Linked DNA regions of Homo sapiens: region 1 is linked to region 2. The links come from fine-mapping of genetic effects on plasma protein levels. Region 2 holds a variant in brackets. A gene starts in the other region. All regions are shown on their reverse strands.

Region 1 (15,143 bases), not on the chromosome of region 2:
AATAGGCATAACTTCTTCCTGGTTGATCTTCCTTTAAGGAAGCATTTGCACCTTTGTCTGGCTCAGTGGAAGGTGGAGAAGGGGTTCAGATGATCATTTCCTGATTTTTAGGCATTAAATATTTTGGGATCCCACAATTTCTAACAAGGGCATTAATTCAGCTTATACTATTCAGTCAGGCACACTGTCAAGGCAAAGATTACTGTGATGTCACCTCTCATTAATATAAAGATATACACACACACAGACACACACACACACACACACACCCACGAGTCTCTCCTGCTGAAGCAAGTGCTTTAACAAGCAGAATATGTTCATACATGGTAGATAAATAAGGAATTAAATCACTAACATGTAAAATTGGGTTAATACAGTTTTTCATAAGGTGACTATGCCTTGTCCTGTCATATAAAACAAATCGAATGCAAAAATATTGAACATGGTATCTCTTGAGTGACACACAAAATAACAAACACTTCATCTCCTCCCTCTTATCTCAGTTTACCTATAGTCATTGCCCTACCAAGTGCGTGATGTGCTGTTATCCTGAGTTCTATCCTCTTCTTGATAGAAGTATTTAATACTGTGTTCAATGTCCTGGAAACAAGAATCTGAAACATGATTTTAAAAGAAATGCCTGAAGGCCAGGCATTGTGGCTCATGCCTGTATTCCCAGCACTTTGGGAGGCTGACGGGGGTGGATCACCTGAGATCAGGAGTTTGAGAGCAGACTAGCCAAGATGGTGAAACCCCATCTCTACTAAAAATACAAAAGTTAGCCAGCTTGTAGCCCCAGCTACTTGGGAGCTTGAGGCAGGAGAATCTCTTGAACCCAGGAAGCAGAGGTTGCAGTGAGCAGAGATTGCACCACTGCACTCCAGCCTGGGTGACAAAGGGAGACTCCATCTAAAAAAATAAATTAATAAAAATGTAAAAATAAATAAATAAAAGAAATGTCTTAAATACTGAGAAGTTTGAAATAATAAAATATTTTTGAATAAATGAGAGCATATGCTATTCACCACAGCAATAAGCTAAATGTTGCACTCCGTCAGAGATGAGACCGCTAGTGAGCCTAACACATCAGTTACTATCAGCTTCAAGTGATATTGATAAACAATTGTAGTGGATTAAAGGTCAAGTTTTTTTGTTTTGTTTTGTTTTTTGTTTTTTTGAGACAAAGTCTCGCTCTGTTGTCCAGGCTGGAGTGCAGTGGTGTGATCTCAGCTCGCTGCAACCTCTGCCTCCTGGATTCAAATGATTCTCATGCCTCAGCCTCCCAAGTAGCTGGGATTACAGGCATGTACTACCACACCCAGCTAATTTTTGTATTTTCAGTGGAGACAGTGTTTCACCATGTTGGCTGGCTTGTCTTGAACTCCTGACCTCAAGTGATCCGCCCGGCTTGGCCTCCCAAAGTTCTGGGAGTACAGGCGTGAGCCACCACGCCCAGCCAAAGATCAAGATTTTAATGTCAAGAGCATCAGCATAGAACTTTGCAGTTATCCAGTTTCATTTAGAGTTATACAGCTTCCTTACAAAAGGGAGGAACTGGCAAATCAACGAAGCGGATTGCTGTTTTAAGCCAGTACAGAAGTAAAAGATTGACGACAATGACCCTCCAGTATAACAACATTTAGTCCCAAGAATGATGATGTCCTTCATTCCACCTTTTGTACATACCTCAAAAGCCACAGTATTTCACCATACCCACTTACCAAGCAAACTCCCCATCTTTTGTCAAAGTAAAGTGCTACATTTACTACATAATTTCTTTATTAGGAACTGAAGATGTTTAACACTGTGGTCATGTTTTTATTGGGTGTGGGTTCTGTTTGTTTGATGTATTACTTATGAGACTGCACAAATATTGAATGTTCTACTTCAACTCTATTTTTTCCAGAAGCCCTATTATTTGTAGTGAGCAAAACTCTGTAACCTAATGATTTTCAGGAATATATATTCCACGTTTATGAGAAATATATCTTCCCTTTCATTCCCTGTCTTAGACTCCGCCATTTTGGTTCAAGGCTTTCCACTTTCTTGAAGCACATAAATAAATGATGCCCAAAAAAGACAATGAATGTGAAATCTGGTTAATGTAATTCACAAAATAACAGATTGAAGAGACAATCCATATATTTATTTCAATTGATGAAGAAAAGGCATTTGATAAAAATTCAACATCCTTTCATGAGAAAAACTCTTAGCTAACTAGAATTAAAAGGGAACTTTATTAACCTGATTCAGCAGAACATGGGATGAATTCCACAAGGTCACATGGCATGGGCTAAGGAATGCCTTTACTGGGTGAAACCAGTGAGCCAAGGATCAGCACTCCTAAGCATGGGATACTCCCAGCAGACACTCCCATCATTACTCGCTTCAGCCTACATTGAGGTGTTCTGAGGCCATGCACAGCTATTAGTCAGTGAGGCAGGACAGCAGCGTTTCTCAACATCAATACTATTGGCACTTGGAGACAGATCATTGTTTGTTGTGAAAAGCTGTCTTGTGCATTGTTAGATATTTAGCAGCAACCTCAGCCTCTAGACACTGGATGTGAGAAGCACATCTGTCCCAGTTGTGACAATCAAATATGTCTCCAGACATTGCCAAAGTCCCCTGGGGACAAAATAACCACCTTTTGAGAAGGTAGTTTACTACTACAAAACAGGAACATTGTCCCCTGCAATTTTACCTTCTTATAATATGAATATGAGAAGTTCCTTATGGGGCTTGCTTCCTAGACAGTCTAGGTTTCTAGGAAACCTAAATGTAAGCCTAAATGTATTTATATATATACATATATAAACATATTTTTGCTATGTATATATGTATATATATATGTAAACATATTTTTGCTATTGAGTTGCAGTTCTTTATATATTTTGAAAATTAACCCCTTATCTGGTAGGTAGTTTGCAAATATTTTTCCCATCTCACAGGTTGCCTTTATTACTAAATATTTTACATGTTATTGCTTTTAACGTATTACATTTTTCTAACCAATATTTCTAGTGTATAGAAAGCAGCTGACTTTTATATATTGATTTTTGTGTCAGCTAATCTTGAAAAATTGTCTAACTCATGATGTATCTGTAGTTTCTTTTGTGTTTTTATTATTGCATCATTTGCAAACAATGGCTTTTCTCGTCTCCCATTCTAATACTTATTTCTTTTCTTTTTCATTATATATATGTGTGTGTACATATGCATATATATATATATATACACACACATATAAATATAAAGACCCAATTAAAAGTGAATAAGACTTAAACAGACATTTCTCCAAAGAAGATATACAAATGGCCAACAGGTATGTGAAAAGATACTCAACATGTCTAATCATCAGGAAAATGAAAATCAAACCATAAGATCACCTCATACCTGTTAGGATGGCTTTTATTTTAAAAAGAAAAGAAAAAGAAAACAAGTACCGGTGAGAATGTGGAGAATTTGGAACCCTTGTGCACTGTCAGTGAGAATTTAAAGGAGTATAGCCACTACGGAAAACAGTATGGAAGTTCTTCAAAAAATTAAAAATAGAGCTATCACATGATCCAGCAATCCCCCTTCTGGGTATTTATCCAAAAGAATTTAAATCAGGATCCCAAAGAGATATTTGCACCTGCAAGTTCATTGCTGCAATATTCACAATAGCCAAGAAATGGAAACCTAAATGTGCATTGACCCATTGACAGATAAATGAGGGAAGGAAAAAGATTATATACATGTACATATATATGCATACCATGGAATATTATTCAGCCATAAAAAAGAAGAAAAGTCTATCTCATGCTACAACATGGGTGAACCTCAAGGACATTATGCTAAGCAAAATAAGCCAGTCACAAAAGGACAAATATGGCATAATTCCACTTTTATGAAGTGTCTAAAGTAGTCACTTATAGAAGCAGAAAACAGAATGGTGGTTCCAAGGGTCTGGGGGTGGGGGGAATAGGGAGTTGCTATTCAGTGGGTTTCAGTCATGCAAGATGAAAAAGTTCTAGAGACCTACTGTATGACACTGTGCCCACAATTAACAATACTGTTAGTATGCACTTAAAAATATGTTAAGAGGTCATGTCTTATAGTATATATTTCTTACCACAATTTTTTAAAAAAACACGGTGTTGAGCAAAGCATGCAAAATACAAAAGAATACTTAGGCCATAATTACGCTTACACGAAATTAAACAACACGTATCACTAAGCAAGCCATAGCAAGAGAGCAAAACTTTAAAGGAAAACATGAGGATGATTAACAGAAAGTTCAAGATAGTGGTTACCTCTGAAGTAGGGATGGTAATGTCCTATTCTAAATTGATAGGTTCATAGGTGTTTATTATTCTTTTTCAAAAGGTATAGAATGTTGATTACATTCTTTCATATGTAGGATTTATTTTACAATACTTTTTTTAAAGAAGTATCATCAACAGTCAATTACAAATGACATTTTGGGGAGAACCGGAGAAACAAATATGAACTGGCTATGAGATGACATGCAGAAACTATTAATTATCTTAGATATGATAATGGCTTTGTGATTATATTGAAGAATATCCTTATTCTTAGAATTTGCATGCTGATGTATTTAGGAAATAGGAACATAATGTATTCAATTTCATTTCAAATATTTCAACAAATGTAGCTATAGGTATTCTAAAATATCCCAAACTATTAATAATTGTTAAATCCAGTTGTAGGTATACAAGTATCATTGTTCTGTTATTTCAATTTTTCTGTATGTTTAAAAAGTTCATAATAAAAAGGTGGAGGAGGAAATAGCCAATACATTCCAACATTCTAGTATTTGTTTATGAACTTCCCAGATTCCATCCCTGGTATCCAAATGATCTGAGTCCAGTGATATGACTGGTGAGATTGTAACCAAAGATTCACCACCTAATAAGGAGTAGGCTCACTTCCAGGAATGGAGGTATCCTCCCTGCCTCCACTTAACCCCAACTCAGTCCCTTCCACACTTCAGGATGTGGAACACCCCAAACCCAAATCTTTGCATTACTCAGGGGTCCTGTTAGTAAATGACAGAAATCCAATTCAGACCAGCTTAGGCAGAAAGGTGAATGTATTGGGTGGTAACATAACCCTGGGTATGAGTGGGGCTGATCTCAGGAAAAAGTTTAGTGAAGGACTAGATATCCTCTAAATTACTCCCTGTCCATCTCTCATCTCTTTTTATCAGCATCTTAGATTTATCTTCTCAGAATTTCTCTCTCACCAGGGCCAGGACCAAATTTCTGGAGTTTCTGGGCTTATATCTGCAACTTTTCCAACAGGAAGGATTTTCCTCCCTTTAGTACTCATTCAAAGAAAGGACCCCAAAAGCCTGGTCACACACACACACACACACACACACACACACACACGCACACACGTCCATGTCTTCTTCCAAATCCAGGAATTTGGGGGATGCAGGGGCAGAGGAGGGAAAACAAATCCTATGAAGATGATACAGTATAATTATTATGCTCATTGTATGAATGAGGAAACGGAGGCTTAGAAAGGTGAAGCTGCTTTCAAAGTCACACAGCTGGTGACAGGTCCAAAATCTGCTTTCCTCCAGGCCACATGAGATTGGCGGGGGGCAGGAGCACACGGTGCTGGAGCGCAAGGCTGAGAGTGAATGTTCAGGACAGACATTTTAAGCACTGCCATTCAGATTCTTCCTTGGGGTGAGGTGAGAACTGAGAACAAGTCCGGGGCAGCACAGGAAGGAGGGAAGATTTTGGTCCCAGGTGAATCAGGCATGAAGAGGGACTGATAGAGAACACGGTGGAGTTGAGGAAGTCTGGCCCTGCCACTGCCTCGTGTGTGAACTTGAGTAATTTCATGCCCTTTCTGTGCTTCTTTTCCTCCTTCCATAAGATAGTTTGGCCCTGGTGGCGCCTAATGGTCAATCACGTGTCCATTTCTTCTCCTCGTGTGAAGAACGAGGGTCGCTCTTGGATTTCTTCATCTATTCCAGTGCAGAGCCTTAGGGAAAGCCCCAAGTCCCTCCTCAGAAGGGGCCATTTCCAAATAGAGCTGGGAAGTGCAGCCTCCCTTGCCATTTTGAGCCTTCAGCTCCACCCACTGGCATGCCCAGCAGGAACACTATAAAGCCAGGCTCAGCCCAGCTCCCAGCCAAGCACCTGCCTGGCAACATGGGGTCCAGCAGCTTCTTGGTCCTCATGGTGTCTCTCGTTCTTGTGACCCTGGTGGCTGTGGAAGGAGTTAAAGAGGGTGAGCAGACATGGTGGAGCTGGGTGGGGCTGGGCTGGGGAGAGGTCCTGAGGGGCCCTCTGGGGCTGGAGTTCTCATATCACCTTGTGGCTTCCTCCACTAGGTATAGAGAAAGCAGGGGTTTGCCCAGCTGACAACGTACGCTGCTTCAAGTCCGATCCTCCCCAGTGTCACACAGACCAGGACTGTCTGGGGGAAAGGAAGTGTTGTTACCTGCACTGTGGCTTCAAGTGTGTGATTCCTGTGAAGGAACTGGAAGAAGGTAAGGAGACCTGCCTCCCAGGGCTGGGGCTGTCCCTTCCCTGCCTCTATCTGACCCATGAAAGTTCGGAGGAATTAGTCCCTTTAGCTGGTGTGGGGAGGGATGGCTAAAGCTGGCAGGGCCCTCAGAGACCACCTAGTCTGAACATCTCCATTGTCCAAAGGAGGAAACAAGGATGAAGATGTGTCAAGGCCATACCCTGAGCCAGGATGGGAGGCCAAGTGTCCAGGCTCCTCCTCTACCAGGTGTCCTCAGAAATGATGCTGGGTCCTTTCTACCTCTGGGGGTCACTCTCACTTGGCACCTGCCCCTGAGGGTCCTGAGACTTGGAATATGGAAGAAGCAATACCCAACCCCACCAAAGAAAACCTGAGCTTGAAGTCCTTTTCCCCAAAAAGAGGGAAGAGTCACAAAAAGTCCAGACCCCAGGGACGGTACTTTCCCTCTCTACCTGGTGCTCCTCCCTAATGCTCATGAATGGACCCCTCATGAATGAAACCAGTGCCCTTATAAGAGACCCCAAAGAGCTGCCTTGCCCTTCTGCAATGTGTGATCACAGCTAGAAGGCACTGTCAGAGAAGAGAAACTGGTCCTCACCAGATGCTGAATCTGCTGGTGCCTTGATCTTGGACTTCCCAGCCTCTAGAACTGTAAGAAATAAATATTTGCTGTTTATAATCCACCCAGTCTATGGTAATTTGTTATAGCAGCCCAAACCTGCTAAGACAACCTAATAGTAAAAAAAAAAAATCCTATTCAACATTATCAAAGTGAATAAAATATAAAATACCTACAAATAAATCTAGAGATGTACAGAAATTTTCTGAAAGGAAACCCTAAAACTTTATTAAATGACATTTTAAAAGATCTGGATAAATAGACTAAACTTTTCTACAGAATAAATAAATAAATGTTTTTTAAAAGATATGCTCTTCCCCAAGCAGGAAGCCTCCTCAAAGTGTTCACCTTGGTCAGCATAATTTATACCTGAAATATAATTAAAATTAAAACCCACTGGGTTTTGCAAACCCTAATGAAATAATTGATTCTGGCAATGATTATCCATGGCTTCTGAATATTTACAGGGTGCCATTTCATCACCCTGTGGTATATTTACAGTTTGTAAGAGGGAAAACACAAGTTTACAACTTGAGGATTCAGGTACACACCGAAAACACATTAATCTGTCTCCACAATGCTAAAAATGGGTAAAGCGGACCTCCGTTCCTCCTGAGGTGATGCAACACAAAACACACAGCATCATTCAAGAAGGGCTCCTGCCAAGACAGTTGAGCATGAACCTCACCAAGCCTCTACAGCTAGCATTCATCTATGGGAAATGTGAAGGACAAAGAAGATGAAAGACATCACAGGGAAGCAACATGGGACATTCTAAAGAACAATTTGTCTGTTTTGTTCAACAAGTCAATAGCATGAAGAAGAAGAAGGAGGGAGGAAAGGAGAATAAAAAAGAGTTGGAGAGATTGTTCTAGATTAAAAGAAACTTCAGATACATTACAGCCAATGCAATATGTGCACCAACAACCATAGAGTCACTTTTGAGACAATAAGAAAAACAAGATGCAAATAGAATATTAGATGATGTTAAGAAACTGCAGTTAATTTTCTTAGGTGTAACAGTAGGATTGTCATTATGTGAGAAAGTGTCCTTAGTTTTTAGAGATGCACACTGAAGTATTTAAAGGTAAAGTATAAGATCGGTTGGATTTACTTTAAAATACTTCAGCCAAAAAAGGGGTGGGGATATGCATGAAGGAATTCTTGTAAAATGGTTCATTGTTGAATCTGGATGATGGGTATGTAGGCTCCATAAAAGTATTTGCTGTTCTTTTGTGCATTTTTGAAAACATTTTATGATAAAAACAAGGGTTTGTTTTTGCAACTTAACAAAATGATCATTAGGTTCACATGGAACAATAAAATACTTGTAACCTGGAAAATTGAAAATGTAGACTAATGAAGGGTAATGGATACCACCAGTCACTAAAACATATTATGGAGCTACAACAATTACAGCCACAATACAAGCATACCTTGTTTTATTGTGCTTTGCAGTCATTGCATTTTTTACAAATTGAAGGTTTGTGGCAACCCTGCACCAAGCAAGTACATTGGCTGCATGTTTCCTATAGCATGTGCTCACTATGTGTCTTTGTGTCACATTTTGGTAATATTCACAATATTTCAATTTTTTTCATTATCATTACATCTGTTATGTTGGTCTGTGATCAGTGATCTTTGATGATACTTTCCTAATTGTCTCAGGGTGCCATAAACTGTGCCCACATAAGACAGTGAATTTGATCGATAAATGTCACATATGTTCTGATTTCTCCCCCAACCGGCCATTCTCTGTTTCTCTCCCTTGGAACACAACAATGCTGAAATGAGGCCAATTAATCATCTTACAGTGGCCTTTAAGTGTTTAAGTGAAAAGAAGAGTCATGTCTCTCACTTTAAATCAAAAAAAGCTAGAAATGATTAACCTTAGTGAGGAAGGCATGTTTGAAAACCAAGAAAGGTCCAAAGCTAGGCCTCTTTTACCAGTTAGCCAAGTTATGAATGCAAAGGAAAAGTTATTGAAGGCAATTAAAACAGCTACTCCAGCAAACACACAAATGGTAAGTGAAACAGACTTATTGTTAATATGGAGAAAATGTTAGTGGTTTGGATAAAAAAATCAAAACAGCCACAGCATCCCCTTAGCCAAAGCCTAATCCAGAGCAAGGCCCTAACTTTTTTCAATTCTATGAAAGCTGAGAGGTGAGGAAGCTGCGTAAGAAAAGTTTGAAGATAGCAGAGGTCGGTTCACAAGATTTAAGGAAAGAAGCCATCTCCATAACATAAAAGTGTAAAGTAAAGCAGCAAGTGCTGATGGAGAAGCTGCAGCAAGTTCTCCAGAAGATCTACACAAGATAATTGAGGAAGGTGGCTACGCTACACAACAGATTTTCAATGTAGATGAAACAGTCTTTTATCGAAAGAAGAGGCCATTTAGGAATTTCATAGCTAGAGAGAAGTCAATGCTTGGCTTCAAAGCTTCAAAGGACAGGCTGACTCTCTTATTAGGGACTAGTGTATTTGGTGACTTTAAGTTAAAGCCAATGCTCATTTACTATTCCAAAAATCCTAGAGCCTTTAGGAATTATGCTAAATCTATTCTGCCTGTGCTCTATAAGTGGAACAACACAGCCTGGATGACAGCACATCCATTTACGGCATAGTTTACTGAATATTTTAAGCCCACCGTTAAGACCTACTGCTCACAAAAAAAAACAATTTCTACTTTCCTTTTGTAATATTTCTACTTATTGACAATGCATTTGATAGCCCAAGAGCTCTGACAGAGATGTACAAGACAATTAATATTTTCATGCCTGCTAACACAACATCTATTCTGCAAATCAAGGAGTAGTTTTAACTTTCAAGTTTTATTATTTAAGAAATACATCTCATAAGGCTATACATTATTTAAGAAATACATCTCATAGCTGCCACAGATGGTGATTCTTCTGATGGATCTGGGCAAAGTAAACTGAAAACCTTCTGGAAAGGGCTCACAGTCTAACTGCTATTAAGAACATTCATGATTCATGGGAGTAGGTCAAAATATCAACATGAATAGGAGTATGGAAGAAGTTGATTTCAACCCTCATGAATGACTTTGAGGGGTTCAAGACTTCAGTTGAGGAAGTCGTCACTGCAGATGTGGTGGAAATAGCAAAAGAACTAGAATTAAAGTGGAGCCTGAAGATGTGACTGAATTGCTACAATCTTATGATAAAACTTGAATGGATGAGGTGTTGCCTCTTACGGATGGGCAAAGAAAGTAGTTTTGAGAGATAGAATCTACCCCTAGTAAAGATGCTGTGAACATTGCTGAAATGACAAAACCAAGAATTTAAAGTATTATGTAAACTTAGTCGATAACACAGCAGGGTTTGAGAGAATTGATTCCAACTGTTTGTTGTTGTTGTTGTTTTCAGAGACAGGGTCTTGCTCTGTTGCCCAGACTGGAGTGCAGTGGCATGATCACAGCTTACTGTAACCTTGAACTCTTGAGCTCAAACAATCCTCTTACCTCAGCCTTCCGAGGGGGTAGGATATAGGCATGCACCACCATCCAGCTAATTTTTTAATTTTTTGTAAAGGTAGAGCCTCACTGTATTGCCCAGGCTGGTCTCAAACTCTTGGGCTCAAGTGATACTCCTGCCTTGGCTTCCCAAAGCTCTGGGATTATAGGCATGAGCCACTGCACCATGCCATGACTCTGATTTTGAAAGAGGATGTACAGTGTATAAAATATTATCAAACAGCATTGCATGTTTGATAGTATTTCACAATATGTGACAGAGAAATCTTTCACAATATACCTTTGTATCACACCTGCACATGTACCCCCTAATTCTAAAATGAAAGTTGAAAAAAAGGAAGAGTCCATGGATGCAGCAAACTTCATAGTTGTCTGATTTTTTAAAATTGCCACAGTCAACCTATCCTTCAGAAACCACTACCCTGATCATTCAGCAGCCTCAACATCAAGGTAAGACCCTCCGCCAGCAGAAAGATGATGATGACTCACTGAAGGCTTACATGATTATTAGCATATTTTAGCAATAAAGTATTTTTAAATTAAGGTACATACTTATTTTAGACAAATGCTATTTTGCACTTAATAGACTACACTATAGTGCAAACATAACTTTTAGATACACTGGGAAACCAAAAAATCCACATGGCTCACTTTAATCCCAGCATTTTGGGAGGCCAAGGTGGGAGAATCACTTGAGTCCAGGAGTTAGAGACCAGCCTGGGCAACATAGGAAGGCCCCCGCCCCCCGCATCTCTACAAAAAATAAAAACTAACCAAATATTATTGCAATATTCTCTTTATTTCAGTGGTCAGGAACTGAACCCACAATACATGCTTGTCTGTGCTGGCATAAGAATAAACAGTCAAAAGAAAAGAACGGGCAAGGCACGGTGGCTCACGTCTGTAATCCCAGCACTTTGTGAGGCTGAAGCGGGCAGATCACAAGGTCAGGAGATTGAGAGGAGCTTGACCAACATGGTGAAACCCTGTCTCTACTAAAAATACAAAAATTAGCTGGGTGTAGTGGCATGTGCCTGTAATCCCAGCTACTCAGGAGGCTGAGGCAGGAGAATTGCTTGAACCCGAGAGGTGGAGGTTGCAGTGAGTCAAGATCATGCCACTGCACTCCAACCTGGGTGACAGAGCGAGACTCCATCTCAAAAAAAAAAAAGGAAAAGAAAAAAAATGAAAACCCATAAACAGCCCCTGTTACAATAAGACTTAAGTTATTGATAAAGTTTTAATTCTTAATCAATGGCAAAAGTTTAAATTATTCACTAAATGATCATAGGACAATTGCTTAATTACTTACAAAAAAAAGATATTTCCTATTTCACGCTCTATACCAAGATAAACTTCAGCTAGATTAAAGAATTATCATGTCTTTCAAAAATCACAAAATAATAACAAGTAAATATAGTGAATATTTATCTAACATCAGAGTCAAAAAGCCTTTTTAGCATAAAAATAAAAGGAGAAAATATGAATGAAAAGATTGAATTGATTACCCCAAAATTTAATCCTTTGGTACTAAGCAAAAATGAGGAAAGAAATATTTGCAATATAGCATCAAAGCATTTATCAAGTTTATCTCATTCAGTTCTCAGAACCATCCTATAACACGTATATGATTATCTCTATCTCTACTGGTATACAAAAATAAACAGGGGTTTTACAAAATTAATGTCAAACAGATAGAGCCTATGGCACCAAGATTCAAAACTAGGTCTGCCTAACTCCAATATACATCTGTTCACTACTGCCCCTTGTGTATGACAGGTTAATAGATTCTTAATATATAAACAGCTCTTAAAACTCAAAAATAAAAGGACCCCCAATAAAAATGAGCAAAATACAAAAACAGGCAATTCACAGAGAAAGGATACAGTCAGTATGCGAATATGAAGAAATGCTCACCATCATGGGTATTAAGAGGAAGAGGAAGACAAATTAAAATGAAATATTGTTTTCCGTTAGCAAAGATTTTATTTACTTATTTTTTTAATATCCTGTATGTAGTAAGAATATCCACTAAGGATCTTTGGCTGTGAGCAACAGCATCTGAGCTTTGGACTGTTCTGTTTAGAGAACTGGCTTATCTGTTCAAGACTCTAATGAAGGCGTGGGCAAGTTAGGGGTGGAGAAGAGTGCAGTGGGTGTAACCTGGATCCAGTGCCCTCAGCTTTGATAGGAGAAGTACCTGCTGATTGGCAACCAACCAGAATGACAGCAGTCAGGAGGCAATGGTTCCACCAAAGGAAGAGACGCTGGGCAGACGAAACAATAGAGGTCTATGGCAGGGCAGGTGGAGGCTCTTGTACACTCACTTACTTCCTTTCTGAAATTTAATTTGACCAGATATATCCAACGCCTGGAAACATGACTGTGCCTTTTGACCTAGCATTTCTAACTTTGACAAATTTACTTTAAGAAAACAGTCAGAGATGTGACTCCAAAATGTACACAAAAAGATGGTTATCACAGCTTTATTTATGAAAGTGGAAAATTGGAAACCTCCATGTTTCATAATAGGATACTGATTGTGTATATTTTGGCATATCTTTTTTCCCTAAAAACTTTACTGAAGTGATGTTTTGACATATAGATCTAACAAAACAGCATGTAGCCATCAGAAAACATGATGTTTAGAGAACATTTCACAGCACAGGAAAATGTCTACAAAATAATTTTAATTTAAAAAGCATTGGCATGGTGGCTCATGCCTGTAATCCCAACACTTTGGGAGGCCGAGGCGGGTGGATCACCTGAATTCAGGAGTTTAAGACCAGCCTGACCAACATGGTGAAACCCCGTCTCTACTAAAAATACAAAAAATTAGCCAGGCATGGTGGCGGGCGCCTGTGGTCCCAGCTACTTGGGAGGCTGAGGCAGAGAATTGCTAGAACCCAGGAGACGGAGGTTGCAATGAGCAGAGATTGCCCCATTGCACTCCAGCCTGGATGACAGAGGAAGACTCCGTCTCAAAAAAAAAAAAAAAAAAAAAAAAAAGAGCATTTCATGGCTGAGCACAGTGGCTCACCCCTGGAATCCCAGCACTTTGGGAGGCCAAGGTGGGAGAATCACTTGAGTCCTAGAGTTAGAGACCAGCCTAGGCAACATAGGAAGACCCCCCATCTCTACAAAAAATAAAAACTAGCCAAATATTGGGGCGCATGCCTATAGTCCCAGGTACTCAGGAGGCTGAGGCAGGAGGACTACTTGGGTCCATGAGGTCAAGGGTTCAGTGAGCCATGATGGCACTGTGCACTCCAGCCTGGGTGACATAGCGACATTCTGTCAAAGACAGAGAGAGAAAGAGAAAGAGAGAGAGGAAAGAAGAAGGAGAAGGAGAGAAAGAAAGAAAGAAAGAAAGAAAGAAGGAGAAAGGAAAGAAAGAGAGGAAAGAAGGAAAGAAAGAAGAAAGAAATAAAAAAGGAAAGAAAGAAGAAAGAAAAAGAAAGAAGAAAGAAAGAAAAGAAAGAAAGAGAAAGGAAAGAAAGAGAGGAAAGAAGGAAAGAAAGAAGAAAGAAATGAAAAAAGGAAAGAAAGAAAAAGAAAAAGAAAGAAAGAAAAGAAAAAAGAAAGAAAGAGGGAGGGAGGGGTGGAGGGAGGGAGGGGTGGAGGGAGGGAGGAAGGAAGGGCTCATATATTTGTCCTCCAAAATAAAGCTTCCAAGGAGGTGCCAGCATTCCAAAAGCAACATCAGATCATAGAAGACAGAGCCTCTCCTATCTTAATAGCTTAGAAGACAGCACGAGAGATTCACATTAAACCCAAGGAAGAACTTCCTGCTGCCAGGGCTGTCCTGGATTGGAATGGGTAAGTGAGACAAGCCCTGTAATATCACCCTCCTTTCTCAGGATCAGATGAGGTATTGACCTGCTTTTAAAACCCAGGAACTGAATGAGGGTGATGGGGAGGCCACAGTGGGAAGTCCCAGCTTAGTCAGGAATTAGCTGCGTGTCCTTGGGCCAGTCCCCTCTCATCTCTATCTCACAGTTTCCTCGTCTTTCAAATGAGAAGGCTGAGAGAATGTACTTCGATGGAGTTTCTGTTTAGGATGTCCCTTAGGATGCCAAGTCTCAGCTCCCTCTCTTCTACCAAATGCAGGAGGCAACATCAGAGATACGAAATCTAAGGTGGGGGTCCCTGGATGAGATGACATTTTTTTGCTCAGGATCCCTTAGGGCCAGAGAAGAGGTTCCAGTGGCCACACATCTGCTGTGACCAGCAAACTTAGCCAAGCCAAAAGCCATGCTCCCCCACCCTCAACAGCCAAGCCAGCCCCAGGAAGAGGGCAGTTCTATCAGAAGCCACTGGTGATCTCACCAAAGGCGGGGTGGTCTTTCTCCCATCCACAGGACCCAAGAGGAGAGGCCAGGGCTGGCCTCACTCATTATGCCAGCCTGGGCCAGCCTTCTTTGGCTGCAAGCTCTGGCCTAACCCTAATGCCTTCTCCCTTCCTAGGCATCCAGAACTCTGCAAACCCCCACTCCTTTGCTATTCAAAGCT
Region 2 (15,143 bases):
CCTTTCCTCGCCACTCACCCAGGGATGTGGGATTTCATCTCTGCAGAGAATGTGGGGCACTGGGCCATCAGCAGGGAAGGACAGAATGTCAGGCCGTCCTTGGCCCCACCCATGGTCCAAGTCAGGAACCCCCTCAGAGCAGGATCGCAGGGCCACAGGCTTGGTCAGCTGTGAGCATGGAGGAGGAAAGTTTGAGGGCCAGAGCCACCAAGCTCCAGGGCCACCTGGTGGAGGAAGAACTGGCTGCCTGGGTGAGCAAGGGGAGCACCCCCACCACAGGACTGCTCTGAGGTGCAAGGCTAGAGGCCAGGAGCCGGTGCCACGTCAGGGAGGAAGCTGGGTGGGGCCAGGCAGGAGCAAGGGGAGGTGGGCGGGGCTGGGTGGGGCCTTGCCACCTCGGGGCAGTCTTTTCTCCTCCCTCACCCCAGCAGAGCCCAGGCCATCAGGCCACTCGCCTCCACACAGCCTAGTGACCACGGCCTGCCAGTGGGGAGCATCTCCCGGGCAGAAGGGCACTGTGTGTGTGTGTGTGTGTGTGTGTGTGTGTGTGTGTGTGTATGTCAGGTGTCAAGACTGAACAGCAGAAGGAAAAAAATAACAGAATAGAGTCAGAGGTTAGGGAAGCTATAGGGGGTATAGGGCATGGTTGAAGGGCTTTCTGAGACAAAAGACTGGCCATGTGTTCTGTGATGAGCTGCTATGTGGATGTAGGAAATGGGCCAAGGTCTGGCAGGGGAATCCTCTTTCCAGGGGCTCCCTGGCTAGGTGTTTCATAGATGTTAACTGCATGAATGGGTGACACCCCCCCACCCACCAACCATGCTCCAGCTAAGGCCCTCCCCTCAACGGCTGCTCCCCCTGGAGGTCCGAGTATCCATGTGACCCCCATCGACCCACTCATGCTCCCTACTGCCCAATCTCCACCCAGACCCGGCCACGCAGCAGCAGCAGAGAAGGGAGGCCTTCCTCTTCAGGCTGGTAGGCCAGGGAAGCCTGGCCCGTGGAAGCCAGAGAGGGGTCTGTATTTGCAACTCTCCCCTCCTCTTCCTCCAAACATCCTCTCCCCCTACTCCCAACCCCCACATCTCTGAAGCCCTGGTGTTTTCAGGCATAGATAAGCAACCAAGAGATTTCAGTCCCACAGAGATTTAACTCTGGCTGTAGGATATTTCTTGTGCACCTCCAATGAAATTACAAAGTAAATAAGACCAACACAGTCCCTGCCTTCACAGGGCTTTACAATTTGGCAGGAAAGACCCATTTCATAGACAATGACACAATTACAGCAGTTAGGTGACAGTTGGTGACATGGTGAGTGCCAGGAAATAAAATGCAAGGAGCTAAATGTGTCAGCACAAGGGCAGGGGAAGGGGGTGTGTGTGGCTTCTCCAAGGAAGAAACATAATCAGAGACCTGAGGGAGAAAGAGAAGTTGGCTAGATTAAGGGGTACAGGAGGGACAGGCATTCTAGGCAAAGGAGCAGCTTGGGGGAGTCCCAGAGGCAGTGAGGAGCCTGACACTTCTGGGTACCTGGAAGAGGGCCAGTGTGGCCCAAGGGCAGAGGAGGAGAGAGGGGCACTGCAGGGGGTGGCCTGCCTGCCCTTCAGACGCCAGGCTCTGAGGGAAGGAGTGCGGCAGTGGGATCCTAGGAGTGGGGAAAGTGTCTCAGCCCCTCATGATCTTCAACCTTTGACGTCAACCCCCTCTCTTGTCTTTACAGAGCTGCTGGCTGCAAAGAAGACCCACACCTGTGAGTAGGGGGTCCGGGGCAAGAAAATGGCTGGGGCATAATGAGATGGAGAATAATTCAGCAAGTGATCTGTGGGGGGACTGAGGTTGGACAGAGGTGGAGGAGTCAGGAAGAGATGGCAGGCAACAGGAAAGCAAGGGGAGGTGCGAGGAAACCACAGATCAGGGCAGTGGGAGGAGATGAGGAAGAAGCCTGAAGCATGAAAGGAAACACTGTAAAGAAACCAGGAGAGAACAAAGGAAAAGGGAACCGCCTTGTGAAAAAAGGCGAGGAGAAATGCTGGACAGAGGCAGGGAGATGGGAGGGGGTGGGGCCGACTGCCAGGCCGGGGAAGGAAGGAGATAGAGGTAGGGGGGTGTGCGGAGGCGGGGTGGCCTCAGGAACTCAGGAACTCAGCGCTGCTGCCAAGGGAGACAGGGAGCCTGCACCAGGCTTTTTTTTTTTTTTTTTGAGACAGAGTCTCACACTGTCGCCTGGGCGGGAGTACGATGGCACAATCTCGGCTCACTGCAACCTCCACCTCCCAGGTTCAAGCGATTCTCCTGCCTCAGCCTCTCGAGTAGCTGGGACTACAGGCACCCACCACCACGCCTGGCTAATTTTTGTATTTTTAGTAGAGACGGGGTTTCACCATGTTGGTCAGGCTGGTCTCAGACTCTTGACCTTGTGATCCACCCCTCTCGGCCTCCCAAAGTGCTGAGATTACAGGCATGGGCCACTGTGCCCAGCCTGCACCAAGCTCTGTGGTCCTGAGCCAGGTTTGGTGTTCATCTCTGTGGTTAACACATCCTGAGGTGTGAACAAGCCTGGAGCCAGCCTGTGCAGGACTAGAGAGCAGGAGAGCTTTATCTCTGTAGGAAACAGAATGGACAGGGGCACTCTGTGTCCTGGGGCCCTGAAAGCCAGACTACAGCAGGTAAGAAGGGCACTAGAGCTCAGAGAGGACTTCCCAGTGGACGCTAGTGAATAAGAATCCTCTCTAGGGACCACTCAGCACATCAGCTCTCCTCTCCTAGTTTGTGGCAAAGGCTAGTCCCCCAGAGAATGCACACAGTCCCAAAGCTATGCCCATCAGGGCCATGCGTGCCCTTCTGTGAGCATGGGTCCCTGAATCGAGAGGATCCCTCCAGGGTAGGAGTGGCCACACCATTTCTCCATAGCCGTCCCTTGACTGCCTTGCCAGTTCCTCCTGAGAGCTCACTGCCATCTCGCCCAATGCCAAAATTGTCTAGAGCCTCCCTGTTCCAAGTAGAGACATCTCAGAGAGCAAAGCATTGCCCTTCTCCATGAGCTGGGCAGCCCAGGGCTGAGGGCCATCCAGGATGCTACCTCCTCCTGGGTGGGGGTTGCTTTGCTCAGCATAATCCTGATCAGTGTCTCGCCTGCCCCTAGCCACAGGGCCCCACGGAAATGCTGAGCAGGGCCCCGGGAGGAAAGCGGGTCAGGGAGTGACGCGGGTGAGCTGGGGGAGGGGGGTCACGGACCTTATGTGGGTGGGGGGAGTAGGGGGACTTTCGGAGCAGCAGGAACTGGGAGAGGTCAAACCCTATTCCTACCCTTAACCCCTGACCTCAGAAACCTCAGCCAGGACTATACCTCCTTATCCCTTTCCCATCCCACCAGTCCTCGTGTCCCCACCCCAAGAGTGTTGTCCTGAGGATCCAGGCTGACAGCCTCTCCCCCACTCCACGGCCCAGCTCCTGAAGCCCCAGGAAGGCCCAGGAAGGCAAGGAAAGGCCTGTGCCTGGATGAGAGGGTCTGGAGTCCCAGCAAGATCAGACACCTCTCAGGAGTTTGCCCCACAGAATCCAGGAGACATTAAGGCCTCCCCCAGGCCGAGAGACTCTGAAAATTGGCTCCTGAATTGAGACAACCCCAAGATGGGGGTCCAAGATGGGGAACCCGGGGGAACTCCCCAGACCAAGAGGGAGCCTGAATACTGAGGGGCCCTGAAGAGGGACTCTCAAAGCCAATGTACCCCACAAAGCACCTAAGAGGCTGAGAAGGTCTCTGGAATTGTTTGGCCCCTGAGAAGGACCCCCCTCCCCCAGGCCAAAAAACACTCCAGAGAGACTCACATACCGAGGGACCTCCCAGGCTGAGACACCCTCAAAAGCAGACTTGAACCAGAGAAACCCTCCCATCCTTCAAGTGGGATCCGAAGCCAGTCTGCCTGGGCTTGAATCCTGACTCTGCCACTTACTAGCTGTGTAACCTTGGGCAAGTTACTTAACCTCTCTGTGTCTCACTTTCCTCCTCGAAATGAGGATAATGGTAGCTACTTCATAAAGTTTTTTTATTTTTTCTTTTTGAGACAGAGTCTTACTCAGTTGCTCAGGCTGTAGTGCAGTGGCATTATCTCAGCTCACTGCAAACTCCGCCTCCCGGGTTCAAGCGATTCTCCTGCCTCAGCCCCCTGAGTAGCTGGGACTACAGGTGCTCGCCACCATGCCTGGCTAATTTTTGTATTTTTAGTAGAGATGGGGTTTCACCATGTTGGCCAGGCCGGTCTCGAACTCCTAACCTCAGGTGATCCACCCACCTTGGGCTCCCAAAGTGCTGGGATTACAGGCGTGAGCCACTGCCCCCGGCCCACATAAAGTATTTTGTGAGGATTAGATTATCCACATAAAACATCGAGAACCATTTCTGACACATAATAGTAAGCACTATTATTATGATTATGAGTATGATGATGGTGATGATGATCATTATCTACACTCCAATTTCAGCAGTTTGGCTCCTAAGGAAATTTCTGGTTTCCTTCTGTGGATTGTGGGTATTTGCCTGGTGATTATTACTGCTTCTATCATTTCCATGTATTCCCTAGCGCAAGATATATGTGGTGTCTGCAGGGAGGAGCGTGGGCATGGGAGTGGTGGGACAGCCCCCCAGGCTGCACCACACTGGGTATGGCTGTTGGCAGTCCACAGGGTGTCAGGTGGCACATGCCACCACCCCAGGCAGACATCCTGTGACTTACCTCTGAAAACATCCCTGTCCCTGAAGTCACCTGGCAAAGAGGGTCAGGCTTGGAAGGTCCTCGGGGGTAGGAGGAGTAGAAATTTGGCTTCAGGCTCGTGTGAGCTCCATTCTGGCTCCCCAGCCAGAACTACCCTGGCGGGTGGAAACAGCTTTTACCGCGTGTGGCTGTCGCATGTGGTTTTGGAATTTTCCAACGCCCCCTACGATTGGCTGCCCCTCCCCTCACACCCTGCCCCAGGCCCAGATTGGCCACGTGGGGCGCCTGTCATCCTACTCACTGCACCCCTTGGGGGTGGGGTGGGGGGTTGTCACTTGGCCACCTGTGTGGTGCAGAGCTTAAACCCCCCAGTCCAGAAGCACTGGGGGAGAGAGCTAGGTGCAGAGCTTCAGGCTGAGGCGCTGCTGAGAGGGCCTCGCCCCGCCTCTGCCGCCAGCTGCACCCCACTCCTGGACCACCCCCTGCTGAGAAGGACAGGGAGCCAAGGCCGGCAGAGCCAAGGCTCAGTCATGAGAAGTAAGTGAATGGGGCCACCTGGGGGCGGGGGAGCCTGGACCCTGTCGTCACCCCTCTGGAAAGGAGGATGTCTTGGGAACAGTGTGAGCAAATCTGAGCAAAGCAGGGTGCGTCCTGGTCAAGGTCAAGATCTGTTGGGAGATGGGTGGAGCAGCTGGGGAGTCCTGCTGGCCAGGCGGCTCCCTGACAGCAGCAATGGTAAGAGGACTGTTGAGGAATTCCTGAGTTCCAAAAAGAACCTCCAAAAGTATCTGAGGTATCCAGGCCCTTAATTTTACAAAAAGACTGAGAGCCAAGGAGGCCGCGTACTTGGCCCAATGTTACACAGCTGGTATCTGATGGGGGCTGGTAATTACTAGGGGCCCTGAACGCACTCTCCTGTTACAGTGTTTCCCTTGTTACGGTGTTTCCCTCTGTGCCTCCAGCCTGCTTGTGAGTAAAAGGAGGCCAGAGCAGTTGCTGTGCTCTGAAGCAACAGGACAGCGAGAGTCAACTGAGGTTGGCAGGCAGCAGGGCACAGAATCCCCGCGTCCAGGCCTCAAAGCCACCAGGCTTTCTGCCCAATCCAGGGACATGAGGACTATGTGGAATCCAGTCAGGGTGCACCCGGGCACATGCCTGCGTGTGTGTGCATGTGTGTGTGTGCGTGTGTGTGTGGGGTGTGTGTGTATGTGTGTGTGTGGTTCTCCAGGGTCAGTCACCCATTTGACCGGGGAAGCAAGGCAATGGAGATGGGATTGGAAAGACCTCGGCCTCACCCTTTTCCTGGCTTGGAGCCCTGGGCCAACAGTTGGTGGGCAGATGTCTGGGGTTCCTGTGCCTTCCAGCAGAGCAAGGGTGGGCAACCTCAGGAAGTCCCCTGTATTTGTTGTGAAGGGAAGCCAGGGAAGCCAGAGAAGCTCTCAGAGCACAAGGTGAAGGAGGAAAAGGGAAGCCCCATGCCCCTGTGGCTGAGGCCTGAAGCAGCCCCAGCTTCAACCTGGGGTCTTCCCACAAGCCACAGAAGGGAGGCCGTATTGAGTCCTGGAAAGACCCCTGGACTGACAGTGTAAGACCAGGCACTTGTGCCGCCTATCACTGGCTAGCCATATAGACTTAGACAAGCCAAGTCACTGGGCCCTGGTCTACCATCCGCAAAACAAGGGAGCTGAATTTTAAGATAGAACAACAAAACCAACTATGGAGAGTCTCCCATTCCAAAGGCCCAGGGCCAAGAGAGAGCCCAGTGCCCTAAGGCAGGCATCCCCAAGGGTGATGATGGAGACTCAGCTCTCCCAGAGGTTAGAAGGAAGGGAAACCAAGGAAAGAAAAGAATTCCACTTCTGTGACAGGGACTGAGGCCACAGTGCAGGCATATGAGCTGGGGTGGATAAGGAGGGCTGGAGAGAAGAGCCAACAGCTTCTACACAGAGGAAAGGGCCCCTTGGAGCTTCCGTTTCCCTTCTAGCTTCTCTCTATTAGCAGCAAACGCTGGCAGACTGGTCTTCCCAGAGATGGCCCCTAATGAGCAAATCAACCCTGGGATGAAATGACTAGGTGTGCTTCTAGCCCAGCAGCGGGGCAGGAGTCCCCAGGAGGGGCTGAGGGAGACACTTGGCCAGCTCTCCATTATTCCCACCCCCACCACACACACACAGCCCCACCCAGGCGGGGAAGTAGGAGAGAGGGCCTCCTCCAACGAGGGGGTCAGTGCCACTGGTCCTTCTCACTTGGACATTTACAGGTATCTCATAGCCCCAAGTTATCTGACCCCAATGAGTGCCAACCACCACCAGCCCCTCCAACCGCCGATGGCAAAAGTCAAAGCACATGGGGCTTGGGACTGTGACACACCCAGAGACCAAGGGCCCGACAAAAGGAGCAGAAACAAATCAAGAAATAAGGAGAGATGCAGAGGCCCAACTCAGAGGGCGAGTTTCTGGAACACCTAGGGAGAGAGTAATGTCCAGCTGGAGGTGTGGTTGGAGAAACACCAATAGAGCCAAACGCATGGAGGTGCAGCCGGGCGTGGTGGCTCATGCCTATAATCCCACTTCAGGAGGCTGAGGCTTGAGGCCAGGAGTTTGAGACCAGCCTGGGCAACAAAGTGAGCCGCTGTCCCTACAAAAAAAGTTTTTTTTAATTCGCTGGGCATGGTGGCGTGTACCTGTAGTCCCAGCTACTCAGGAGACTGAGGCAGGAGGATCGTTTGAGCCCAGGAGTTCAAGGCTGCAGTGAGCTATGATCAATGTCACAGCACCCTAGCTTAGGTGACAGAGCGAGACCCTGTCTCTTAAACAAACAAACAAACATGAAGGTGTGAAGCCCAGAAACAGAGCTGGAATGCAGAAGATCACAAGGCACATAGACACAGGGAGAGGCGGAGAGAAAAGATAACTGGCAGTAAAGGGAAGACAGGGAGACACAGGGTCTAGGCAAGCGGTAAGAGGGAAGTAGGGTGGCTCTGACAAGGATGGCACCAGCACCCTGCCATCCGACCTGCTGCTGTCAAGTGGAGATAATGTGTCTGTACGCCAAAGAGACTCCCAGCCAGCCAGACGGAGGGTAGCCCAGACATCTTCCCCTAAGGGCATGGCCAGCGTGGCGCCAATAGGCACTCAGGCCCTGGCATTTGGTCTGGATGGGGAGGTGGGAGGCCGAGGGGTGTGAGGTCACTGTCTATGAGCTGATCTTTCTTAGGTTTGGTCATGATCATGAGGAACAGTGGGCCAGAAAGGACTCCAAGTCCCCAGGGTACACAGATATCACCCTGAGAGCCCAGGGCCATCTTAGGACTCCGTGAAGGGCTTCTTCCTTCCTTTCATCACTCCAGCACCCTTCTCTTTCCCCGTCTTCCCATTCCTAACAGAAATACCAAACCACCGAGCCCAAGGTGCTAGACTCTGAAAAGACTCAGCTTGTCCCAGCACAATGAAAATATTCGGTCCCTACCAAGGGCTCCTCCCCATCCCCTGCCGCTGTGCTGCTGACTCAAACTAACAGGGAACAGGACTTTCCAAGGGCTAAGGTCTCTCCCAGGCGGGCAGCCCAAGGCCCGCGCTCCTGTTCCCATATAGCTAGTCCTTTCTGAAGTCTCACCTCCACGCCTGCTGCTGCAGTGCAGCCCCTTCCCTGGGGCTCTGAGGCTCAAAAAGGATGGAGATGTCTATTTCGGGGGAGGGACAGTAACAAGGCAGGGCCTCAGGGCCAGAGCCAAGGTCTTTCTGGGTCCACTACCCTCCTGGAGCAGTGAAGGTGCTCTGGGATGAGGGACAGATGGCCCTGAAGGCAGGGAAGGTGCTGATGGTGACGTCTGGGCTCCCACTCGCCAGAGCTTCCTCCTAGTGATTCATCCCCTCCCCCATTCACTGGTTGTTTTCACTCGCCTTTCTCCAGTCCCAGACTGTGGGGGTGGCGGAGGCACCAGGAGGGGGTTTCGGGTGGCTGGCTGGCTGTCATTCATGGCTTTTCAAAACCCCAGACTCTCCCTCGCCCACCTGAGTTTTAGCTTCACTATTTTCTCAGCCCCAGGATCTGGGTGTTTCAGCAGAAAATTCTCACCAGGAGCTGCGGTGAGGGCCCTGGCCTGGGCTGGGGGTAGTGTTCGCCAGGTAGAACCACTTCTCCCCCAGCCCCCACCCAGCCCTCCCGCTCCTGCTCCCCTGTGGTGGCACCCACCACCTTGGTTTCCAGCTTTGCAGAAGCTGGGGGAACTGAGAGCTGAGAAAGGAGGGAGGCTGGTGACAGGTTGGGGTGTGCAAGTGACCCCTGACCGGAGCTGTGGTCTCGGTGGGGATCGAGACAGAGAGTTCTGGCTGTGGGGAGAGGAGGAGCTCAAGCTAAGGAAAGAGATGCATTCCTCTTTCTCACTCATTCATTCATTCTGCAAAGGGAGGCATACCAAGATGTATGGAAACCTAGTCTATACCCTAAAGGGGCTGTGGTGTTCCTGAGGAGTCCCCGGGAACCCTGTTGTTGATATATAAGTCATCCCACTTGGCCTTAGAGAAAGGGGTAAGGGCAGGAGGAGGCTGGGACCTCAGAGGAAGAGTTGGGACAGAGGGAATAATATCTCTTGGGATCTTTATACAAACAGGAGTCCTGGCTTTAGTTCTGTGGGTTTCCTCTGTGAATTCTGTTCCTAGACCACCACAATCACCTCACACTTTTACCCCTACAGCCAAATAACCATGTCCTCTACCCAGGTCTCCGGTGTGCATTTGGGCGTCTTATCCTCATAAAGTATATAGCTTAAGGCTTGAGGGCACTGGCTGCAGAATTACAGAGATCTAGGTTCAAATGCCAGATCTGCCACTTCTGGCTGTGTGACCTTAGTCAAGCTGTTTATTCTCTCTAGGCCTCAGTTTTCTCATCTGTAAGATGAGGATGATACTAGCAGGGCCTATTTCACAGGGTGGTTGTGATCATTGAATGAAAATGCATGTAAAGCCTGGCACAGAGTAAGAATTCAGCCAATGCTTATGTCTATCATTATCCTTTCTCCTTAATCAGTATCCACTGGAGAAAAAGGAGAGAGAAAGAGGAGAGGAAAAGGCCCAGCTCTAGATTGACGAGGCACCAGGAGGAGATGAGGACCCCGGGGTTTCTCTGTGTGAACCCATTCTCTACCATGATGGTGGGGGGGTGGTGGTTCTGGGGTTTGAGAGGAGAGATCCCCCTGGGTTGCAGCCCCTCCCCTGCTCCTACCACTTCCTCTCTGTGGCATAGGGCACCTGGACAGGGCCCAGGGTTGGCTTCCTAAGCTGGCACAGGGCCAGGCTCTGGAAGTACTCAAAGCACTATCATTGAATCTCACAGCTGTGAGAGGCTCGATTAGAGGAGGATGGAGGACTTTGCCTCTACCGTATTTCCCCTCATAGGAGGAGCTACTAGGATGCTCCTGGGGGTACTTCAGTCTCTAAAGCAATTCAGAGGAGATTCAGTTTCTTTTTCTAGTATTGTCTCAGAATGAAGTCTTAGAGGTCACACTGGATGGCAGAAAAGATGCAAGAATGAGCTCAGGAAAAGATCGCCAACCCCAGCCCCACTCCCTGGAAGGAGCAGCCTGGCAAAAAGGCAGGAATAGGGACTAAGTTCTTGCTACTCAAAGTATAAGCTGAAGACCAGTAAGCTTAGGCACCAACTAAGAGCTGACCAAAGTGCAGAATCTTGAGTCCCACCTCAGATCCCCAGGTAATCTTGTTTGAGATGCAGAAAGCCATAGTCATTCAGTCATTAGATGACTTAAGGAGCTGGCGGGTGCATTTGGGCATTTGTCTCTCCTTTTGGAAGATGTGGAATTGGAGTTTTCTTTTGGAGAAAGCTCTCTCTCAGGAGAGAGCTACAGTGAGAGAGCTGCAGGTGAGATGCAAAGATCTTTCCAAGACAGCAGGCGAGGGTAGAGTTAGGGCTGCCATGGGAGCAGTGGTGCAGGGGCTGGTTCGAGGTTCCTGACCTTTGCTTGGCTCTAGTTCCTGGCACTGGCAGGCCCTTAGATGGTAAGTTCCTGGCAGGCCTGGCTCCAGGGCAACAGTTTGAGTAATCCTGTGATTACTCAGCTCCTTCTCCCCAATCTGAGTTCCCACCACCTGCTGCTTCAGGGACGTGTCTCCCAGGGGTAGCTTTTGAAGGTGAGTTATCATCAGAGGTGTTTTCAGCTCCTCTCACCAACCCCCAAGTCTACCAGCCCCCTTCCCGTTCTCCCCCACCCCTTCTCTACAAGTAACACACACCCTCATGTACACAGCACTGGTACTTTCTTTCTGAGGTTTGGGTGGATGGCATTGAAGGGAGTGCAGGTGGCAGGGGAAGGAGGGGGGAGCAGGACTAGAGGGCCTGAAGTGCTGAGGGGGCCATGGGTTGGGCAAAGGCCAGGATACAAGCGTGGATTTTCTGTGTTTCAGTGTTTCCGCAGCCGTCTCTCCATCCCTAGATCTATGTCTCTGTTTTTCCTGGACCCAAACCTCTTGGTCTCTCCAGCTCAGTGAGGCTAGGGGGTCTGACATTCTAGCTCAGAGTCTTTGGCCTTGTGTGTCTGTCTCACTGGGTACTTCTGTCTTGGACTGGGAGGATGGAGGATGGGCTGACCAGGTGGCTGGAGTCC[A/G]AGGCTTTGGTGTCGCCCAAACATGGGTATTTGCGAAGGGGGTCCTTGACTGGCCGCATCTTCCTATGAGAAGGTCAAGGTCTTGGTGACACTGTTGTGAGGTTCCTAGGGCCAGGAGAAGCAGTGGGTCAAGCATGGGGCAGGGAGATGTGTCTGGGGTCACCATGTGGTCAGCACACACACGCACGCGGATGTGGCTCTTGGAGAAGGGAAGAGGCAGGGAGGCCTGTGGTTGACTGCTGGGCCAGAGCCCGAGTTCCCACTGCGGCTTGGCCTAATCTCCCTCCCGCTTACTTTTTTGGGTGGCCCACGTTGGTTTCTCCCATCTCTGGTCTTAGGCCACTGAAAAGAGAGATGCCACAGTGTTGGAGGGGGAGGTGTTGGGCAAGAACAGAGTCCACAGGGCCCGAGTGCTCCTCTCAGCCTTGCCAGGCCCACTGGTCTTCTCAGCCTGACCTCTGCTCAGGAGTAACTTGAATACACAGTGCTTTCCATTGGTGATATCATTTCATTACTCTCTGTTACCTACAATCACCCCATGGACAGGCAATAATACTTTTATCCTGATCTTGCTGACAAGAAAACGTAGGTCTAGAGGGAGAATCTAAGTGACTAGAAGTATGGGGGCCCCAACGTTTTCTGCCCCTGTTCCAGACACCCAGTGCCCTCTTATTCTCTCTTCCCCTCCATGTATTAAAATCTGCTCTTAATTTACTGGAAAGAACCTGGAAAACTCACTTACCGCCTGGTCCTGGGGGGACCACAGCTTACAGTGTGAGCACTGGAAGCTTGCTGCTGGGCAGGCACGTGTGGCTGGGGGTTGGGTGAGGAATTGAGTGCTAATGAAGGGATTTCAGATACCCATGTGCCCTGTCCCCGTCAGGGTCAGCTACTGCCTCTGACTCACCTCAAGTCTGGCCTGAGGGATGATGGTTTAAGAATGATGGAAATAATATTTTGGGGAATGGCGGGCAAGCCATGGTCTCCCTGCCCACTTCACATCAACAGGCCCTACATGTGACCAGTGTCCAGGCCAGGGACTGGAGGTGAGATCACAGCAATGTGCATTCGCCCTCCAGAGAGGCTGCCACTTCTTTTGCCCCTTTGGTGGGAGACACGTCATAGATTAAAAGGGGCTTTGGCCCTTCTCTTCACTTTTCTGGCCTGTCCCGCCCCAGGGCTCCCCACTCAGAGGGGAGGCAGCAGGTCAGTGATGGTGGAAAAGAGACCCATGTGCTCTGGGAAATGCTAAAAACACCTACAGTAACCAGGGATCCCAAGCTTTGCCCAGCTACCTTTCAAGGAAGAGCTGGGAGAAGGCCTCCTGTGGTCCCATGAAGCTCAGCAGAGAGTCGTGGGCATTGACAGGAACAGGGCAAAGCAGAGATGAGCTTAGGGCCAGCAGCAAACCACAGGGGTAGGGAAGCAGGTACAGGTTACAGTGAGTTCAGTGGGAGAGAGAACCCGGGGTCCTAGTGCCCCATGAGCAGACACTAACATACAAATATGCACGTGTGGACGCAGGAGCAACCAGATATGTCGTAGGCTCACAAATGACACATACTTTTCTTGCATATGCACACCCACAAGCACACCTTCAAACATGCCCACTGAAATGTGTACCCGAAAAGACAGGTACACAGAACAGCATAATGGAAAGCTCAGGGGAACTGGGATGTAGATCCAGCTCTCAGGCAAACTAGCCTATGACCCTGGCCCAACCGCTTTGCCTCATCTGGCTTAGTCCTTCATCGGTAAATGAAGAGGTTGAATGAGATGGTCTCTAGTCTCAGCCATTTTTAACATTGATGATTCATGTTCACACAAATGGATACAGATGCCTTTGTACAAACATAAGTGTTCACACTCAGACACACGGATGTACACAAAGCCACCCTCTCTCTGCTCTGGGGCCAAGAGCCTAAGAGCCCTGGCTAATTCTTTCCCTAGGCTCTCAGGCATCCAGCAGAGCTGGGGTGTTGAGCCCCCGTTTCCTGGGTTCCTCCCTGCCACCCCCTCACCCTGTCTCTGTATAGCACCTCCCTGAGCCTTCACTGTCTGGCTGGGAAGGACTGGCATCTCTGCCTATCCCCCACCCCTTGTGTACCACATCTTCCTGCTATACCCTACACTTTGCCCATGGGAGCTGAGCCCCAGCGAGGGAGGGAGGCACAGAGGAAGCCCCTTCGGCGGGAAGCAGGTGTTGTGAGGCCGTGAGGAGTCCTATGTCCCAAGGCGGGAGGGAGGCAACTGGAGCTTTTCAACTCGAAGGGCTGAGCAGGTGGCCCCTCTGCAGCTGCTTTCTCTGCCTCCATAGCACTGATACAACTCCCGGCCACCCCTCCACACTCCCCTCCTCTGTGAAACAAACACAGCTTCCTCACACCCTTTGCTGAGAAGCATTTGGCATTTCACTTCCCCTTCCATTTTGCAAGAGGGAAACAGCAAGCTGGAGCTGGTTGGAGAAGTAGTGGAAGCACCAGGTACCTGTATCTGCAGCCCAGGTACATGGTGGTTGAATGCAGAAAAGCCTCCTGGGCTGACCTACTTCTCTTTCTCTCTTCCAGCACAAATTGAAGTGATCCCTTGCAAAATCTGTGGGGACAAGTCGTCTGGGATCCACTACGGGGTTATCACCTGTGAGGGGTGCAAGGTGAGTCATAGGCATGTGTATGCATGCATGTGTGCGTGTGCATACACAAGCGCGCGCGCGCGCACACACACACACACACACAGTGTCTCCTTAGAGATAAACAAGGGGGTTAATGGCCTTTGTTCTGACTCCAGGGATGATCTCCTGGGCAGCCAGGAAAATGCCTGAGTAGCGCCTTCCTGCAGGGCCCTCAACACTGGCAGGGCCCTGTCTTAAGCTGGGGAAATGACTACAGGATAAATTGCAATTACACAAATAGATGGAGGAGAGAGAAAACTGACAGGTCGTGGGATGTAGAAAAGCTGCCAGAGCTTGTGGGCTGGAGGCCTTTGTGAGTGAGCTGGGCCTGACCAGGATAAGCAGTCTTGCCCTCCACCTGCTTTCCCCAGGGCTTCTTCCGCCGGAGCCAGCGCTGTAACGCGGCCTACTCCTGCACCCGTCAGCAGAACTGCCCCATCGACCGCACCAGCCGAAACCGATGCCAGCACTGCCGCCTGCAGAAATGCCTGGCGCTGGGCATGTCCCGAGATGGTGAGGCCAAGTCGACAGCCCCCTGGGGTTTTCCTGGTGTCTCCAGAGGGGCAGCCTGGCCTGCTGAGCTAGACAAGGCTTAACCTGCAAGACGGCCCATCCTCTGGTCTCCTCTCCATTCCTCCCCGTTACAACCCCTTGTCTCCTCCCCTCCAGGGATGGATGGGTCACCCCCATCAAAGTTCTTTGGAGTCCCCAACTTTAGGCTTTGCTAGAACAAACATCCTCTTTCCAAGGTCCCATACCTCTTCATCTCTTCTTACTTGGAACGAATTCTCCTCACTCTGCTGCCCTCTGGCCCAGCTCCCATGCAGCTCTGGCACCTTCCCCTGCTACCCTGTTGTTGTAGTTCTAGCTCTATCTCCTTTTCTAATCCCCCATTCCCATACTTGGACACAGGACTATAGCCAGGAATGGAAACAGAATTGGCCTGAGAACAACCAGAGGGTGGTCGTGGGGGAGGGCTGGTGTTCCTGGTGCCTTATCCACCCTCCTCACCCACCACCTCCTCACCAGTCTCCCTGCACACCTCCACCACCACAGAAGGAGCCTAGGGTGGAGCTGGGGGGGCATGAGGTGATGAGGAGCCAGAAGGAGCCCGTCAGCACTTTTCAGTGCCCAAAATAAC

Direction of the effects. Alleles are on the strand shown, and positions count from the first base shown. The strength of an association depends on the size of the effect and on how common the allele is.
In carriers of allele A in region 2, the plasma level of the protein whose gene starts at base 6,159 in region 1 tends to be lower than with G alone (moderate association).

Evidence for each region. PIP is the posterior inclusion probability: the model's chance that the variant is causal. The UK Biobank Pharma Proteomics Project read protein levels with antibody pairs (Olink). The fine-mapping took linkage between variants from a reference panel, not from the people measured, so its PIPs are less certain.
Region 1: WFDC12 starts here. The variant in region 2 is fine-mapped to the plasma level of the WFDC12 protein (UK Biobank, PIP above 0.99).

The regions. Positions count from the first base shown.
Region 1 is chr20:45,115,481-45,130,623 of GRCh38, reverse strand. WFDC12 (WAP four-disulfide core domain 12) reads left to right here and starts at 6,159. Exons shown (of 3, transcript NM_080869.2): 1 at 6,159-6,255; 2 at 6,359-6,517; 3 at 6,681-7,199. The coding sequence starts at 6,177. The coding sequence ends at 6,778. It also overlaps a transcript of WFDC5 not described here. RefSeq lists an enhancer at 15,013-15,143.
Region 2 is chr1:151,816,036-151,831,178 of GRCh38, reverse strand. RORC (RAR related orphan receptor C) reads left to right here. Exons shown (of 11, transcript NM_005060.4): 2 at 1,721-1,750; 3 at 13,899-13,984; 4 at 14,374-14,515. Among named protein-coding and RNA genes, the nearest start is that of RORC, 8.2 kb to the left of the region's middle. RefSeq lists enhancers at 69-756, 1,443-2,128, 5,390-6,325, 8,095-8,594, 8,595-9,096. The variant A/G (reference allele first, on the strand shown) is at 11,332.